Linked DNA regions of Homo sapiens: region 2 is linked to region 1. Evidence: fine-mapped expression QTL. Tissue or cell type: whole blood. Region 1 holds a variant in brackets; the other region holds the start of a gene. All regions are shown on one strand. Distances are between the middles of the regions.

The links. PIP is the estimated chance that this variant, and not a neighbour inherited with it, causes the effect.
Region 2: it holds the start of PRKD2, and the variant in region 1 is fine-mapped to the expression of PRKD2 in whole blood (TOPMed, PIP above 0.99).

The regions. Positions count from the first base shown.
Region 1 is chr19:46,761,791-46,769,890 of GRCh38, forward strand. No RefSeq gene overlaps it. Among named protein-coding and RNA genes, the nearest start is that of STRN4, 19 kb to the left of the region's middle. The variant G/A (reference allele first, on the strand shown) is at 4,521.
Region 2 is chr19:46,712,889-46,720,988 of GRCh38, forward strand. PRKD2 (protein kinase D2) reads right to left here and starts at 4,226. Exons shown (of 18, transcript NM_016457.5): 1 at 3,243-4,226; 2 at 975-1,113. The coding sequence starts at 3,482. It overlaps STRN4 (striatin 4), which reads right to left. Exons shown (of 18, transcript NM_013403.3): 17 at 7,648-7,883; 18 at 6,623-7,450. The coding sequence ends at 7,714. LOC107987269 reads right to left here and starts at 6,834. Exons shown (of 4, transcript XM_017027568.2): 1 at 5,758-6,834; 2 at 5,465-5,614; 3 at 4,911-5,088; 4 at 3,646-4,289. The coding sequence starts at 6,175. The coding sequence ends at 3,923. RefSeq lists silencers at 1,241-1,470, 4,122-4,171, 4,192-4,351 and enhancers at 1,661-1,960, 5,472-5,521.

The sequences.
Region 1 (8,100 bases):
GTAAGTTACTATGTTCTTATTTCTCCTTTTTATTACATTTAGGGCAATCAAGGATCGTTTTTGTTGCTGCTGCTGTTGTTGTTGTTTCTGAGACAGGGTCTCACTCTGTCACCCAGGCTGCAGTGCAGTGGCACAGTCTTGGCTCACTGCAGCCTCAACTTCCCAGGCTCAGGCGATTCTCCCACCTCAGCCTCCCGAGTAGCTGGGACTACAGATAAGTACTACCACACCCAGCTTTTATATATATATATATATAAATATATTTATATATATAATGTCTCTACTAAAAATACAAAAATTAGCTAGGTGCGGTGTCGCACGCCTGTAATGCCAGCAGTTTGGGAGGCCAAGGCGGATGGATTACTTGAGGTCAGGAGTTCGAGACCAGCCTGGCCAACATGGTGAAACCCCATCTCTACTAAAAATACGTGTGTGTGTGTGTGTGTGTGTGTGTGTGTGTGTATTTTAAGTAGAGATGGGGTTTCACCATGTTGCTCAGGCTGGTCTCAAATTCCTGGACTCGAGTGATCTGCCCACCTTGGCCTCCCAAAGTAGGATTTTCTTAAATCATGTTAAATCATGTGCCAGTGGGTTATACTGTCTATGAACTTCATTTCAGGAGAACAGAGAGAACTTTCCCAGAACTGACATTCAAGCCAGCACACGCCCTGGTATGGCCACGCCAGTGGTTAAGACAGCAAAACACTAAATTATGGATTATTTACTCATTCATAAACGGTCACTGCCATGAACCCCCTGACTATTAGTATCCTCCTAGCTCTCCCTGGGGATCCCCTGGGCTGCCCTCTGGCCCAGAAGTCCAGGGGTTAAACTGGGTATAGTGGGAGATAAGAGGGACCCATATCCCGGATGTTGGATGGACTGATGACTTTGCCAAGCAGTAAATATTTTGTCTATCAGCCCTACATGTTACAAAATATTTGCTATGAACAATAGTGGCATGTAAAGACCTGTCTACATTAGCCAGGTGTGGTGGCTAATGCCTGTAATCCCAACGCTTTGGAAGACCAAGGCTGGAGGATCACATGAGCCCAGGAGGTGGAGGCCACCCAGGGTAATATGTTGAGACCCTGTCTCTACCAAAAAAATTTAGGAGGGGCGAGTGGCTCATGCCTGTAATCCCAGCACTTTGGGAGGCTGAGGCGGGCAGATCACTTGAGGTCAGGAGTTTGAGACCAGCCCAGTCAACATGGTGAAACCACGTCTCTACTAAAAATACAAAAATTAGCCAGGTGTGGCGGCTCACACCTGTAATCCCAGCACTTTGGGAGGCCGAAGAGGGCGGATTACTTGAGGTCAGGAGTTCAAGACCAGCCTGAACAACATGGTGAAACCCCATCCCTACTAAAAATACAAAAATTAGCCGGGCGTGATGGTGGGTGCCTGTAATCCCAGCTACTCAGGAAGCTGAGGCAGGAGAATTGCTTGAACCTGGGAGGTGGAGGTTGCAGTGAGCCGAGATTGCACCACTGCACTCCAGCCTGGGCAACAGAGCAAGATTCTGTCTCAAAAATAAAATAAGGTAAATAAAAAATAAAAAACCTGTCTACAAATGCACCTTTATGCACAATAGCCCCAACCTGGAAACCATCAGATGTAAATCAACAGGTGGGTGGATAAGCAAACTGTGGTACACTCAGACAACATAATACTCCTTAGCAAGTTTTTTAAAAAAGGAAAGAACTGGGCCGGACGTGGTGGCTCACGCCTGTAATCCCAGCACTTTGGGAGGTCGAGGCGGGCCGATCACCTGAGGTCGGGAGTTCAAGACCAGCCTGACCAACATGGCAAAACCCTGTCTCTACTAAAAATACAAAATTAGCTGGGCATGGTGGCACATGCCTGTAATCCCAGCCACTTGGGAGGCCAAGGCAGGAGAATCACTTGAACTCGGGAGGCGGAGGTTGTAGTGAGCCGAGATTGTGCCATTGCACTCCAGTCTGGGCAACAAGAGTGAAACTCCATCTCAAAAAAAAAAAAAGAAAAGAAAAGAAAGAACAAACTACTGATACATGCAAAAATAAGAATAAATCCCAAAAGCATTATGACACATAAAAAAAAGCCAGATGCAAGACGCTACATAGTATATGATTCCACCAATGTAAAATTCTAGAAGAGGTAAAACTAATTCATAGTGACCAAAAGCAGATCAGTGGTTACCGGGGCCTGGAGCTGGAGAGAGGGGCAGACTGCAAAGAAGCATGAGGAAATTTGGGGATGATGAGAATATCATGTATCTTGATTATGGGAGTGGTTTTTCACAGTATATTCATCTGTCAAAACTCATTTAACTGTATTTTATTTATTTATTTATTTATTTTGAGACAGGGTCTCGCAGCATTGCTCAGGCTGGTCTCAAACTCCTGGGCTCAAGCGATCCTTCTGCCTCGGCCTCTCAAAGTGCTGGAATTACAGGCATGAGCCTGGCCTAATTGATTTTAACGGGTGCAATTTATCATATGAAACAATTTTTTTGGAGCCAGCCTTGCTCTGTTGCCCAGGCTAGAGTGCAGTGGTGCAGTCTTGGCTCACTGCAACCTCTACCTTCTGGATTCAAGTGATTCTCATGCCTCAGCCACCTGAGTAGCTGGGATTACAGGTGTGCACAACCACACCTGGTTAATTTTTGTATTTTTAGTGGAGATGGAGTTTCACCATGTTGGCCAGGCTGGTCTTGAACTCCTGGCCTCAAATGATTTGCCTTGACCTCCCAAAGTGCTAGGATTACAGGTGTGAGCCACCTTGCCCGGCCTATTGTATGTAAATTATACCTCAATAAAGTTGACCTCAAAAAGAGCAGATGGGGGCAGAATCCAACAGGCCTAAGAACATTGACCTGTCTCTAAGAGAGACAAAACTGAGTCACTGCCCTCTGCCTTTCTGTCCCCATACTGCCACTCTGAGCCTAGAACCCAGGACCAACCCTAATCCGGGGCCAGCCTGGGCCCTCCTTCCTGGGCCAAGCTCCTTCAAAGAGGCAAGAGGGGTGGGTGGGGCAATGGAGAAAGGGAGAGAAAGGTGGGAGCTGGGAACTGGGACCCAGGGAGTGACCGTCAAAGTGCCTTTTCTTCTGCTCTTACGTAACCTGCACTAGCAGCCTTTGGGTGAGGCATAAGAGAGCCATTGTCACCGGCGGGTGAGACCTGGCAGTGCTCATCCAAGGTCACATAGTTGCCAGGCAGCAGAGTCGAGACTGAACCAGCCTCTTCCACCATTCCACGAGTGTTTATTGAGCTCCTGCTATACGCATGCACCGGACCCTATGCTAGACTCTGAGCCTACAGCAGTGAACAATTCAAAGATGGTTCCCCCACAGAGTGACCTTCCCAGTGGGGACAGGCAGGAAACAATAAACATCATAAACCAGTGAATTCTATCGTCTGTTGGGAGGGGACTGTTGCTATTAAAAAAGGAGAACAGGGCAGGGCACGGTGGTTCACAACTATAATCCCAGCACTTTGGGAGGCGTAGGTGGGAGGATCCTTTCAGCCCAGGAGTTCAAAACCAGCCTGGACAACATACAGAGACTGTGTCGCTACAAAAAACAAAAATTAAGAAAAAAAAATAGCTGGGCAGGGTAGCATGGGCCTATAGTCCCAGCTACTTAGGAGGCTGAGGTGGGAGTGTCACTTGAGCCTGGGAGGTCAAAGCTGAAATGAGCTGTGATCATGAAACTGCATTCCAGCCTGGGCAACAGAGCAAGACCCTGTCTTTAAAAAAAAAAAAAAAAAGTAGAGCAGGCCTGGCGTGGTGGCTTATGCCTGTAATCCCAGTACTTTGGGAGGCCGAGGTGGGAGGATTGCTTGAGCTCAGGAGTATGAGCCTGGCCAGCCTGGGCCATAGAGCAAGACCCCATCTCTGTTTGTTTGTTTGTTTGTTTGTTTGTTTGTGACAGGGTCTATCTCTGTCTCCCAGGCTGGAGTGCAGTGGCGCGATCTTGGCTCACTGCAACCTCTGCCTCCCGGGTTCAACAATTCTCATGCCTCAGCCTCCCGAGTAGCTGGGATAACAGGCGCCCGCCACTACACCCAGCTAATCTTTGTATTTTTAGTAGAGACAGGTTTTTGCCACATCTCTCGAACTCCTGACAGCGAGTGATCCACCTGTCTCGGTCTCCTAAAGAGCTGGGATTACAGGCGTGTACCACGACACCTGGCTAATTTTTGTATTTGTAGTAGAGACAGGGTTTCGCCATGTTGGCCAGGCCGGTCTTGAACTCCTGGCATCAAGTGATCTGCCTGCCTCAGCCTCCCTAAGTGCACAGATTACAGGCATGAGCCACTGCGTCTGCCCAAGACCCCATCTCTTAATAAAAAAAAAAAAAAAAAAAAAAAAAAAGAGGAAAAGGGCTGGGCGTGGTGGCTCACGCCTGTAATCCCAGAACTTTGGGAGGCCTGAGGTGGGCAGATCACGAGGTCAGGAGATCGAGACTATCCTGGCTAACATGGTGAAACCCCCGTCTCTACTAAAAATACAAAAAAAAAAAAAAAAAAAGCCGG[G/A]TGTGGTGGCGGGCGCCTGTAGTCCCAGCTACTCGGGAGGCTGAGGCAGGAGAATGGCGTGAACCCGGGAGGCGGAGCTTGCAATGAGCCGAGATCGTGCCACTGCACTCCAGCCTGGGCGACAGAGCGAGACTCCGTCTCAGAAAAAAAAAAAAAAAGAGAAAAGGGTAGAATAGGGTATGGGTTGGGTGGGTGAGGGTGGGGGCAGGAAGCAGGGGTGGTAGAATTAAATAAAGCGGTCAGAGAAGGCTCACTGAGGTGACATTGCAGCCAAGTCGAGAGGGAGGTGTGGGAAGAGCCAAATGGAAATCTGGGGGGCAGAGCAGCCAAGAGAGGAACAGCCTGTGCAAAGGCCCTGAGGCACCAGCAGGCCTGGCATGTTCAAGGAATGGCAGAGGCTGGAGTAAGAGAGGGAGGAGGAGAGTGGGAAGAGGTGAGGTCGGTGAAGTAAGGCGCATCCTACAGAGGCTATGGGGAGCACCTTGGATTTTTCTCTGGGTTCTGAGCTGCGGAGGGCCACGAGCTGCCATGATGGAAACAGGCGCCCTCTGGAGGCCATATGGGGAACAGACGGAAGAGGTTGGGGCTCAGGAGTCCCGGCGTGAAGGCAATTGCAATAGTTCAGGTGGGAGATGATGGCAGCTGGCCAGGGTGGTACCCAGTGTGGAAGGTGTAGAGGGGCCAGATTTGGGGTTTGAGGGCAGAGAAACTGAGATTTCTGGTAGCTTGAATGTGGGATATGACGGGCAGAAGGAGGGCGTAGCAGGGGAAGGAAATAAAGTGGCTTGTTCTGTATGTGACTGGAGCCCAGCTCCTTGCACCAACCCGGGCTCCTGCACCCCTCAGCAGGCCCAGGGATCCCCACCGCCAGGCCGGAGCCAACCCCATGGAACCCAAAGTGCTCAAGCTCCCCAGTGAATGAGGCTCTTAATGTATCACCGCCCGTCAGGCCTGGCCTGGCATCCGGGTTTCTCCACCTGCGGGGTGCAGGGGCCACATTGGTGGGTTCCAGATTCCAAGTTCCAGTATTTGGAGGAGGTGGCAGAGGAGGGCCCCCACCCCACCGTTTTCATCTTTCACCCAAGATTTGCACAGGTTTCATTTTAATGACAGTCCACTGTCTGTTTGTTAGTTAGCTTTGAGATAGAGTCTCACTCTGTTGCCCAGGCTGGAGTGCGGTGGCAAGATCTCAGCTCACTGCAACCTCCGCCTCCTGGGCTCAAGCGATTCTCCCACCTCAGGCTCCTGAGTAGCTGAAACTACAAATGTCCAGATAATTTTTTACATTTTTAGTAGAGACGGGGTTCCACTATGTTGGCCAAGCTGGTCTCAAACTACTAACCTGAGATGATCCACCTGCTTCGGCCTCCCAAAGTGCTGGGATTACAGGCATGAGCCACTGCGCCCAGCCACCCAGCCACTGGTTTTAAAAAATGTTTGACACTGGGCACAGTGGCTCATGCCTGTAATCCCAGCACCTTGGGAGGCTGAGGTGGGTGGATCACCTGAGGTCAGGAGTTGGAGACCATCCTGGCCAACATGGTGAAACCCCATCTCTACTAAAAAAAAAAATACAAAAATTAGCCGGGCGTGGTGGCAGGCACCTGTAATCCCAGCTATTCGGGAGGCTGAGGCAGGAGAATCGCTTGAACCCGGGAAGTGGAGGTTGCAGTGAGCTGAGATCACATCATTGCACTCCAGCCTGGGGGACAAGAGCGAGACTTCATCTCAAAAAAAAAAAAAAAAAAAAAGCAGTGGCTGGGTGCAGTGGTGCATGCCTGTAATCCCAACACTTTGGCCTGGGAGTTCCAGACCAGCCTGGGCAACATAGTGAGATCCCTTGTTTACAAAACAAAACAAAACAAAAACAAAAACCTTTTCTAATTAAAAATAGCTGGGCATGGCCAGGCACAGTGGTGGCTCACTCCTGTAATCCCAGCACTTTGGGAGGCTGAGGCAAATCACCTGCGGTCGGGATTTCGGGACCAGCCTGGCCAACATGACAAAACCCCGTCTCTACAAAAAATACAAAAATTAGCCAGGCCTGGTGGCAGGTGCCTGTGTGGGGAAAAGAAAAAGAGAGATCAGACTGTTACTGTGTCTATGTAGAAAAGCAAGATATAAGAAACTCCATTTTGATCTGTACTAAGAAAAAATTGTTTCTGCTTTGAGATGCTGTTAACCTGTAACTTTAGCCACAACCCTGTGCTCACAGAAACATGTGCTGTAAGGAATCAAAGTTTAATGGATTTAGGGCTGTGCAGGATGTGCCTTGTTAACAATATGTTTGCAGGCAGTATGCTTGGTAAAAGTCATCGCCATTCTCCATTCTCTATTAACCAGGGGCACAATGCACTGCAGAAAGCCGCAGGGACGTCTGCCCAAGAAAGCCTGGGTATTGTCCAGGGTTTCCCCCGACTGAGACAGCCTGGGATATGGCCTCATGGGAAGGGAAAGACCTGACTGTCCCTCAGCCTGACACCTGTAAAGGGTCTGTGCTGAGGAGGAGTAGTGAGAGAGGGAGGCCTCTTTGCAGTTGAGATAAGAGGAAGGCTTCTGTCTCCTGCTCGTCCCTGGGAATGGAATGTCTCGATGTAAAGCTGACCATTCCCATTCGTTCTATTCTGAGCTAGGACAAAACCTCCCTGTGGCTGGAGGCGAGATATGCTGGCAGCAATACTGCTCTGTTGCCCTTTGCTACACTGAGATGTTTGGGTAAAGAGAAACATAAATCTAGCCTACTGCACATCCAGGCACAGTACCTTTCCTTGAACTTACTCATGATACAGATTCCTTTGCTCACATGTTTCCCTGCTGACCTTCTCCTCACCTGTTGCCCTGCTACACTCCCCTCGCTAAGATAGTAAAAATAATGATCAATAAATACTGAGGGAACTCAGAGGCTGGCGCCAGTACAGGTCCTCCGTATGCTGAGCGCCGGTCCCCTGGGCCCACTGTTCTCTCTCTATACTTTGTCTCTGTGTCTTATTTCTTTTCTCAGTCTCTCGTCCCACCTGACGAGAAATACCCATAGGTGTGGAGGGGCTGGTCCCCTTCATGCCTGTAATCCCAGTTACCGAGGAGGCTGAGGCAGGAGGATTGCTTGAATCTGGGAGGCAGAGATTGCAGTGAGCTGAGATCATGCCACTGCACTCCACCCTGGGGACAGAGTAAGATTCTGTCTTAAAAAAAAAATAGCTGGGCATGGTGGTGCATGCCTGTGGTCCTAGCTACTCGGGAGGCTGAGGTGGGAGGATCGATTGAGCTCAGGAGTCTGAGGCTACAGTGAGACATAATCACACCACTACATTCCAGCCTGCGAGACAGAGCAAGGTCTCAAATCTTTAAAAATATTTTTTTTTTTTAGAAAAAGTTTGAGCCAGGCGCAATGGTTCACACTTGTAATCCCAACAGTTTCGGAGGCTGAGGCAGGCGAATCACCTGAGGTCGGGAGTTCAAGCCCAGGCTGGCCAACATAGTGAAACCCCATCTCTACTAAAAATACAAAAACTTAGCTGGGCATGTTGGCACACACCTGTAATCCCAGCTACTTGGGAGGCTGAGACAGGAGAATTGCTTG
Region 2 (8,100 bases), 49 kb before region 1:
TTAGAAAATCACCTGGGGGCTTTTAAAAATACTGATGTGCAGATTCCATCTCACTTTGCAGAGATTCTGATTTAATTTAGCATTTTCGTGGCAGGAGCCATGGACATCATAACTTTTTTTTTTCTTTTTCTACTTTTTTTCTTTTTTAGAGATAGGGTCTCTCTCTGTTGCCCAGGCTGGAGTGCAGTGACATGATCGTGGCTCACTGCAGCCTCAAACTCCTAAGCTCAAGAAATCCTCCCACCTCAGCCTCCCAAGTAGCTGAGACTACAGACGTGTGCCACCTCGCCCGGTTAACTTTTTTTTTTTTTTTTTTTTTTAAGAGATGGGGTCTCCTTATGTTGCCCAGGCTGGTCTCAAACTCCTGGGCTCCAGCGATCCTCCCACCTCAGCCTCCCAAACTGCTGGGATTACAGGTGTGAGCCACTGCAGCTGGCCCATTTTTTACCTTTATATTTAAGCATAACACAGTCAGTTACAGATCCAACTCCTTCTTCTCCTCTTTTCCCCCTTCTAACTACTGCACTTGACTAGTTTTATAAATAAATAAGTATAACATATGTTCAGGAAAGGCCGCACATCACAAGTGCACAGCTCAATGAATTTTCAAACTGTACAAAGCGTGTCACTAGCATCCTAATCCATAAATGAAAGTTTAGACCAGTCCCTAAAGAGCGCCTTCATGACCCCACTCTGTAACCATCTTCCAGAAGCCCCCAACTCTCCTTATTTTTTTTTTTCAGAGGGAGAGAAAGGGGTAGAGATGGAATCTCACTATGTTGCCCAGGCTGATCTCGAACTCCTGGGCTCAAGCGATCCCCCCAGCTCCAGCTCAGCCTCCCAAAGTGCTGGGATCACAGGCGTGAGCCACTACACCCGGCCTCTCCTGACTTCTAACTCCCCCTACCCTCTCCTCCCCCAGATGCCCCGCCCCCACCCGAGGCCCCGCCCCCAGGCCGGCCACCACCTCTCACCCGACAGCACCACCTCCACCAGGTCGCCCTCCTGGATGTCTCCGGACGAGCGCACCAGCTGCAGGAGGTTGGCCGACGTGGGGTCATGTTTGAAAAGCAGGATCTTGTCGTAAAGGCCGTAGAAGCCACACTCAGGGAACTGAGGGGCGGGAGAGGGATGTGGCGACGGAAAAGCTCAGAGCCGCCTTCAGCAGCGGGCGGACTGTGACCCTCCCAGGGCAGGGCCGGCTGTTTCCCCCGGAAACGCAGAGACCCCGCAGGCCCTCGCTTCCTGCCTGCCCCCTCCCAACCCCAGCGCGAGCCGGGCAGGATGCCAGCGCCCCAATTGTACGGGGAGGGGGCGCCGGCGTGGGTTTGGTGGCTGGAAGGGGGAGCTGGGGTGGGAGGGAGAGTGGCTCCGGGAGCGTGGACACCTCGAATTTTCCGGAACCTGGCGGAGGTGGGAGGGGATGCTGAATGAACACTCCCTCCCCTGTGCCTCCTCCCCAGGCTCACACACCCGCCCCCCAGCTTCCTTCCTGGATCTGTCTATTGTTGTCCCAGTTACCTGGCTCCAGGCCCAGCACTGGGGTGGGGCGAGCTGGAAGGAGGACTTTTCGGGGCTCCTGGGAAAGTGGGGGGGGGGGCCGGGGGACTTGGACTCGAGGGCGCTGGAGATAAGGAGGGCGCCTGCCACCCAATGCTCAAAGGACCCAGGTGTCTGGGTCCTCAGCTTTGGGGGCCTGGGGGCAGGAAATGAAACCTAGTAGAACAGAAAGTGAAACTGCCCCGGTGGGGCCTCGGGAAGGAAGGTAAGCGGCCCTAACACACCTGGACCTGGCAGAAAAATAAAACTGGGGTGAAGCCTGAGCGGGGCAGGCTGGGGACTTGAGCACTGGACAAAGAAGTTCACCCAAGGGACAATCTGCCCCCGTACCCCCACTGCCACCAGCTTCCCATGAAGTGGGCTGAGTTGGGGTGGTGAGCTGGGCCTGCGGGATTGAGGCATTTGGTGGGCAAAACCCTATCAGTTCTCACTGCTAAGAGAGAGTCCACAGAAGACCAGGACTGCCTTGGCCCTGACCCCTTGGGAAGTTTTTCTCTAAGCTTCAGTTTCCTTGTCTGTAGAATGGGGGAGCTGGCCCAGTTCCCCACGTTTCTCTGATGCCCAAAGGATTCATTTCCAGGAGTCTGAAAAGATTCTGGAATTTGGATATTTTGGGACTCCAACATGCTCACATTATAGAATTATACATTCTAGATTCCTACCTGGTATCACTATACATTTTAGGATTTCAATAACCTAAATAAGCGGTAATCTAATATTTTAATATTCTAGGAGTCTGACAAGCTAGGACTGTGCTCTTTGAATTCTTTAGCATTCAAGGACCTCATCCATCCAGCATTCTAAAATTCTAACATTTTAACTTTCTAGGATTCAACAATCTAGGAATCTAATATTCCAGCATTTTAATGTTTTACTATTTCACAAACCTAGAATTCTAATATTTGAACACGAACATGGGGGCAATTTAATTGCCTAGGATGCATATTCCAACAAGTTATGATTCTAATATTCTAACATTTCTACAGTCCAGTACTCCAACACAGAAGCCCACTATTCTTTTAACATTTCACGGTTTAGACGTGGAGTTCCACCTGGTTTCCTCTTGCCATAACACCCAGCTGCCCACCCTGGGGACCCTGGTGTCCAAAATTAAGAGTAGGCTAACAGCACTGTGACTAGGAAAGGGAATAGAGTCCCCAGGGTCTGTAGGAGTGCCTGCCCCTCCACACATATCTCAGGCTTAGGGGAGGGCAGAATTGGGCTCCGAGACCTCACTTGCCCCTGGCAGCTAACTCAAGCACCTGCACCCACACATGTCACCGGATCACCATGGCCAGCCCGGGTTCAATTTCTCCTGTTTCCACCAAATGGGAGGCCCGGGATGGGCCTGGACGTGGAGGTCCGCCGACATCTGCTGCCCCTTCCTCCCCTCTCTACACCTGGCTGGCCCCTCCCTTCCTCCCTGTTTGCTGCAGAAAACAACGACATGCAGGGACATGAAATTTGGGGAGGCCTCTGGGGCACCCCACCCCTGCCCAGTCCTCTCTCAAAGGGATGGTGGGGAGAGGGGCAATGGAGGGGGGCAATGCCCCCTATCCCTCCATCACCCAAAGCTCAGGTCTCCTTCCTCCCTCTTCCGCACACCAGGCCCCAGACCCCTCTGCCAGCGCCCCCTCCTTCAACCTCTCCCCGAGCTGGATCCAGGGAGCCTGCGCCCTCACCTTCTGGTCCACGATGGAACAGGCCAGCTGCTTCACATGAGCCAGCTCGGAGGCGGCGGGCAACAGCACGAACTCGCGGGTCAGCCCGATCTGGATGTGAAAGGAGACCCCGGAACCCGGGGCCGGGATCTGGGGCAGTAGCGGTGGCGGCGACTGCAGCTCTAGGCCGCCGGGGGGCGGAGGAGACCCCGGCCCGGGAGAGCCAGGGAGCCCGGCGGGATAAGAGGGGGCGGTGGCCATGGGGGGAGGCCGGGGACCGGCCGCCTGGAGCCCACCCGGGACCCGGCCGGGGGGCCCCGGGGGACCCTGGGTTCTAGATCCGCGGGATCTCGTGAGCAGGTGGTGGGAGAGCGGGGATCCGAGAAAAGATCTGGCAGGCGGAGGGGACCTGAGGATGGCGGGGTCCTGGGAAGGAGAGAAAGGCACTATAGTGGGTCAGAGGCCCGGAATCCAGGGCTCCCAGAAGATCAGAAAGGAGAAAAGTAGTGGGTTGGAGGTCCCAGCGATTGAGATTCCAAGAAGCCTGAGAGGAAATCTAGTAGGTCGGGGTCACAGGGATCAGGAGAGCCCGCGATTCAAAGGCCCCTTCCCTAGAGGAGGGATTGAGAAGGGGGCAGAGGGAATCCCAGGATCCAGTGCTCCAAGAAGAGGATCCCACTCAGAAGGCGGCCCGGGGGAATTCACCTTGGGGGTGGAGGGCAGGAGTCTCTGAGTCGGGGACCGAGTGGATTCCAGAGATAAAGGGGTTCGCAGGGACCCGACCGGCCAGGGGATGGGCAGAGGGGTCCCGAGGGCCGGAGTGGGTAGAAGGGAATCTCACGAGTCGCAGAAGTTGGAGAAAAGTTCGGTCGGGAGCCGTGAGGAAGGGGGCGTTGCCGGAGCGGGGTTGGGTGGGGGGCAGGGAGGGTCGCCAGGCGCCAGTAGCTCTTTTTCCCCCTCCAAAGTTTAAGTCGGCGGCGGCGGCGGCGGCCCAGGAGGAAGTGTCCGGAGCGACAGTGCAGTCGACCAATCGGCGCGGGCCTCGGCGACGTCAGAGAGGGGCGGAGCCTGCCGAGGGGCCGGGGGCGGAAGGGGAGGGTGGGCCCGGGGCCTCCGAGTTGGGGGCTGGACCTCCGCCTCCAGGGTCCGGGACAAGGGATGGTGTGAGGGATGGAGGGCAGGCAGGCGAGACCAGTTCCTTCCCTGAACACAGCCAAGCCTGGAAAGTTAACTTTTCCCTCGGCTGGACAGGGAGGGGAAACACTATCACCCACCGCCGGTCGCAGGCGTCGGGCTTGGAGGCCACTGGCCCTTTAAGGAGGGGAGCCCTCTCCGGCAGGCGTCCGGCGCCCATGGCAGGGGACGGGTGGGAAATCGGTATCAGGTCCCGGCCCGCTCTCTGGGTTCGGCCTCTCTGTTCTCCGAGCGTCACCCCTGCCCTCCCCGCCGCGTCCCAGCCCAGGGAAGGGGGTGCTGCAGAGCGTCCCCCGGCCCCAGCCCATTTAACACATGGAAAGACCGAGGCCTCCAGATGGGTAGGAAGGGGCTCGCCTTAGGTCTGTCTCCAGCGATGGTGGGCAAGGTGCATGGCGCTAACTGGATGGGTGGGGAGGGTCCATCCCCCCGCCCACCCCAACCCCGCCTTAGGATAGTGTGGGGCTGCCCCGAGGGAGGACAGCACACCCATACCACTTCATAGATGCAGAGTGTGTCTCCTGGGGATGTGGAGTACGTGTGCGTGTCTTTCTCTCCATGTGACTTTGGGTGAGTGGCTTCTCTGTGAGCCTCAGTCCCTCCATCTGTTGGGACTGTAATAGGACTGACCCCACATGGGATGGTGGGAGCCGATGCCATGGTATACTGGTGCCTGGAAACGCAGCAGTTCAGTAAGAGGTGGTTGTCTCTGATAATACGCGGAAAGGGGTGGCCACCTCCAGCACTCAGGCTTTGATGGGTGGGCACACCCATTCAGTCACCCAGCAAGTATCTGTGAGGACCTACTGGGTGCTGGGTGGGCCCTGCTGTAAAACTCCAGCCGCTACAGGGGTCAGGCTTGATCTCTCCTCCCCAGCTAATAATCAAATAGTGGCTACCATTTAGTTTACACAGAATAAGCTGAAGCCTCAGAGAAGCAAAACGTCTTGCCCAAGATCCCAGAGTGAAGTTGCTTGAGGGAAGCTGCCCCACCCACCCCTTTGATTGACAAGTCAAGGCCTAGGTTTGAGCTCTAAGAGAAGGGCCACCTGTCTGGCTGGGATGCTGGCAGGACTGGAAATGGCAGGGCTGGCTGAGGATGGGGGCTGCCAGAAGAGCCCCTCTTCCTGGTGTACGGCCGTTGGGGGTAGCTGAGGTCGGTACAGTATCGATTCTGTCACCACATCCGGGGGCTGGGGCTGAGGAAGGAAGTCTGAGGCTGGAGTGAAAACCCAAACCACCACCTGGGGAACTGCATTGAGCCCAGAGGGATGGGCAGGGAGCACACCACGTGGAGCCCACGAAGGCTCCCCTTGGCGTCATCTAAGGGCCTCCTGCCCACCTGCACCCTTTTTCCTGAAGGGCAGATGACTGTCCCAGCAAAACGCTGCCATGTCCTGAGTGTCCAGACAGCGGCCTCCATCCTTTCTCGTATGTTCACTGGGGCCTGCTGGGGGACTGGGGCACAGCCCTTTACAACCCAGGAACTGGGCATTAGTGCCCTGTGGCAGAGGTGCTAGGATTACCGAGGACGCCTGGCTGGTAGGTGGTGGAAGCCTCCTCGAGACAGGAGCAGCGGTCCCCTCCGTCTCATCTGGAGCATGTGGACACCTGCTCCCTCTTTTTAAGGCTGTGGACCCAGTGAAATGCCATGTAAAGCACTCAGTACAGTAGACGTGGACCACTGAGAAGGGAAAGGAGGGACGCATCAGGACATGAGCCACGAGGGCTCGGGCACCTGCGGCACCTCCTCCCAGCATGGAGGAGCCTGCGCCCCAAAGCCATCATCCTCCACTGGCAGGTGCAGCCTTTTCCCTCCCTGCTCCTTGTGGGCCTGGGATGGGAACAGGAAGGGGGTTTACGTCCTCTGGGCACCAGCCCTTTGGCCTCGCCACCACCCTCACACATCCCAGGCGGGGCTGAGGCTTCAGCTGGACTGTCATCATAGTATCTGCTCCCCAGGGCTCTACCCCTGGGGAGGGAGCACTTAGGGACAGAAAGGGCACAAGGAGATTCGGTCCAGTGCCTCCACTTCTCTCCACCCACACCCCACCCAAGCTCTGGGCCCGTCTCCGGCCCCTGCTGCCCTACCACAAAACCCCAACCCATCATATCCCCTCTCTCCAAACTCCACCCAACCCAGGCAGAGCCGGTCACTCCTCCCCCAAAGTCCCCAGTGCCCTCAACAGATGGCACCGTCACCCATCTTACTCCAAAGGGTTTATTGAGACAAGTTTTCACATACAAGATGGGGACAGAGGGGTTGGGGCTTATAAACAGGAACCTGGAAGGGGACCGAGGGTGCAGGGTAGAACCAAACAAGAGAGTGAAATAAATAGAGGGAAAGAGTGGAGACAGGGAGGAGACTGACTGAGACCATCACACAGTGATAATGCGGGTGGGGCGGCGCCATGAAAATCCCGTTATTTATACAGATATACAGGGAGTTCAGGGGGACCCGAGGCCCACTCCACCCTCCATGCCCCAGGGAGGGGCACAAGAAAGCCGTCTCTACCCATGGGCGACCCCATGGGGCGCTGGGAGGGCTGCCCTAGGAGTGTTGGGCAATCCCTGGCCTGGAAGCCTTGGTTAGTGTCTGGAAAGCAGTGGAGAGGGCCGGAGGGGAGGGGCAGCCAGGCCGGGGCTCAGCTCTGAGGCTCCCGGCTGCCACCCTTTCTCCCAGCACAGCTCCTGCCCAGGTCTGGGAGGATGGGGGATGGGGGAGCAGGAGCTCAAGGGGAGAACCTGGCACCTTCTGGAGTCTTGGAAAAACTGATCCCTAAAGACACCCGGCCCTGGCTGTGCTGCCCTCTGGAAAGCAGCTCTGATACCAGGAGCGGCTGTCAGGGCACAGGGGGAAACCCCGAGGCCATCCTCGGGGGTGATTCCTGAAAGGGGCCCATCCCCAGGCTGGATGCTTGGGGAAGGCAGCCGTTGGGGAGGGATTCCTGGGGAAAGGGCCGTTAGCACCACCAGGCTCCATGGCAAACAGACAGAGGCCAGGCCTCTGCACCTCCAGCGAGGCTGGGAGTCCCCTGCGGGAAAGAGAAGGGAGGGGAGACTGAGCCGCCGCCTCTAGGGCGCCTCTAAGGCCTCAACCCCTCCCCTGCATGCCCAGGGCTCCCCCAGTGATTCTCACAGGACGCCCCTGACTGGACTGCGGGGCTCAGCACACCTGGCAGTACTAGGCATGGGCGTGCAGAGACTCAGAATGCGGGGTTTCTGCCCTCACCTCAGCCCCACCTGCCCGGCCCTACACCCCAGCCAGCGTGGCGGCCAGGGCAGGGCCAGGTGGGCATCATACGAAGACCTTGGCCAGGGCATCAGCGCCAGCACTGGCAATGAGGGCCTTGCTGGGGTGGCAGGCAACAGCGTGGATGGCCTCCTCGTGCTTCTTGCGGTGGGCCGTGATCTCCTGCACGCACGTTTTGTTGTCCAGGCTCCAGAGACGCAGGGAGCAGTCATGGCCTGCACATGTGTCGGGGACAGAAGGGGTGGTCACTGGGCTCCTCGCTCAGACGCAGCCCTGGAACCCCTCACCTGGCCTTGTCCAAAGGCCTCAGGGGAAGTGGGGCTCAACTCTCCTCTCTCACCCTCTGCTCATCACCTCCTGTGGCCCGCCCAAAGGAGAACCCTGGTCCCCTCCTGTCCACAGTCCATCTCATCCCCCAGCATTTCTTGAGCA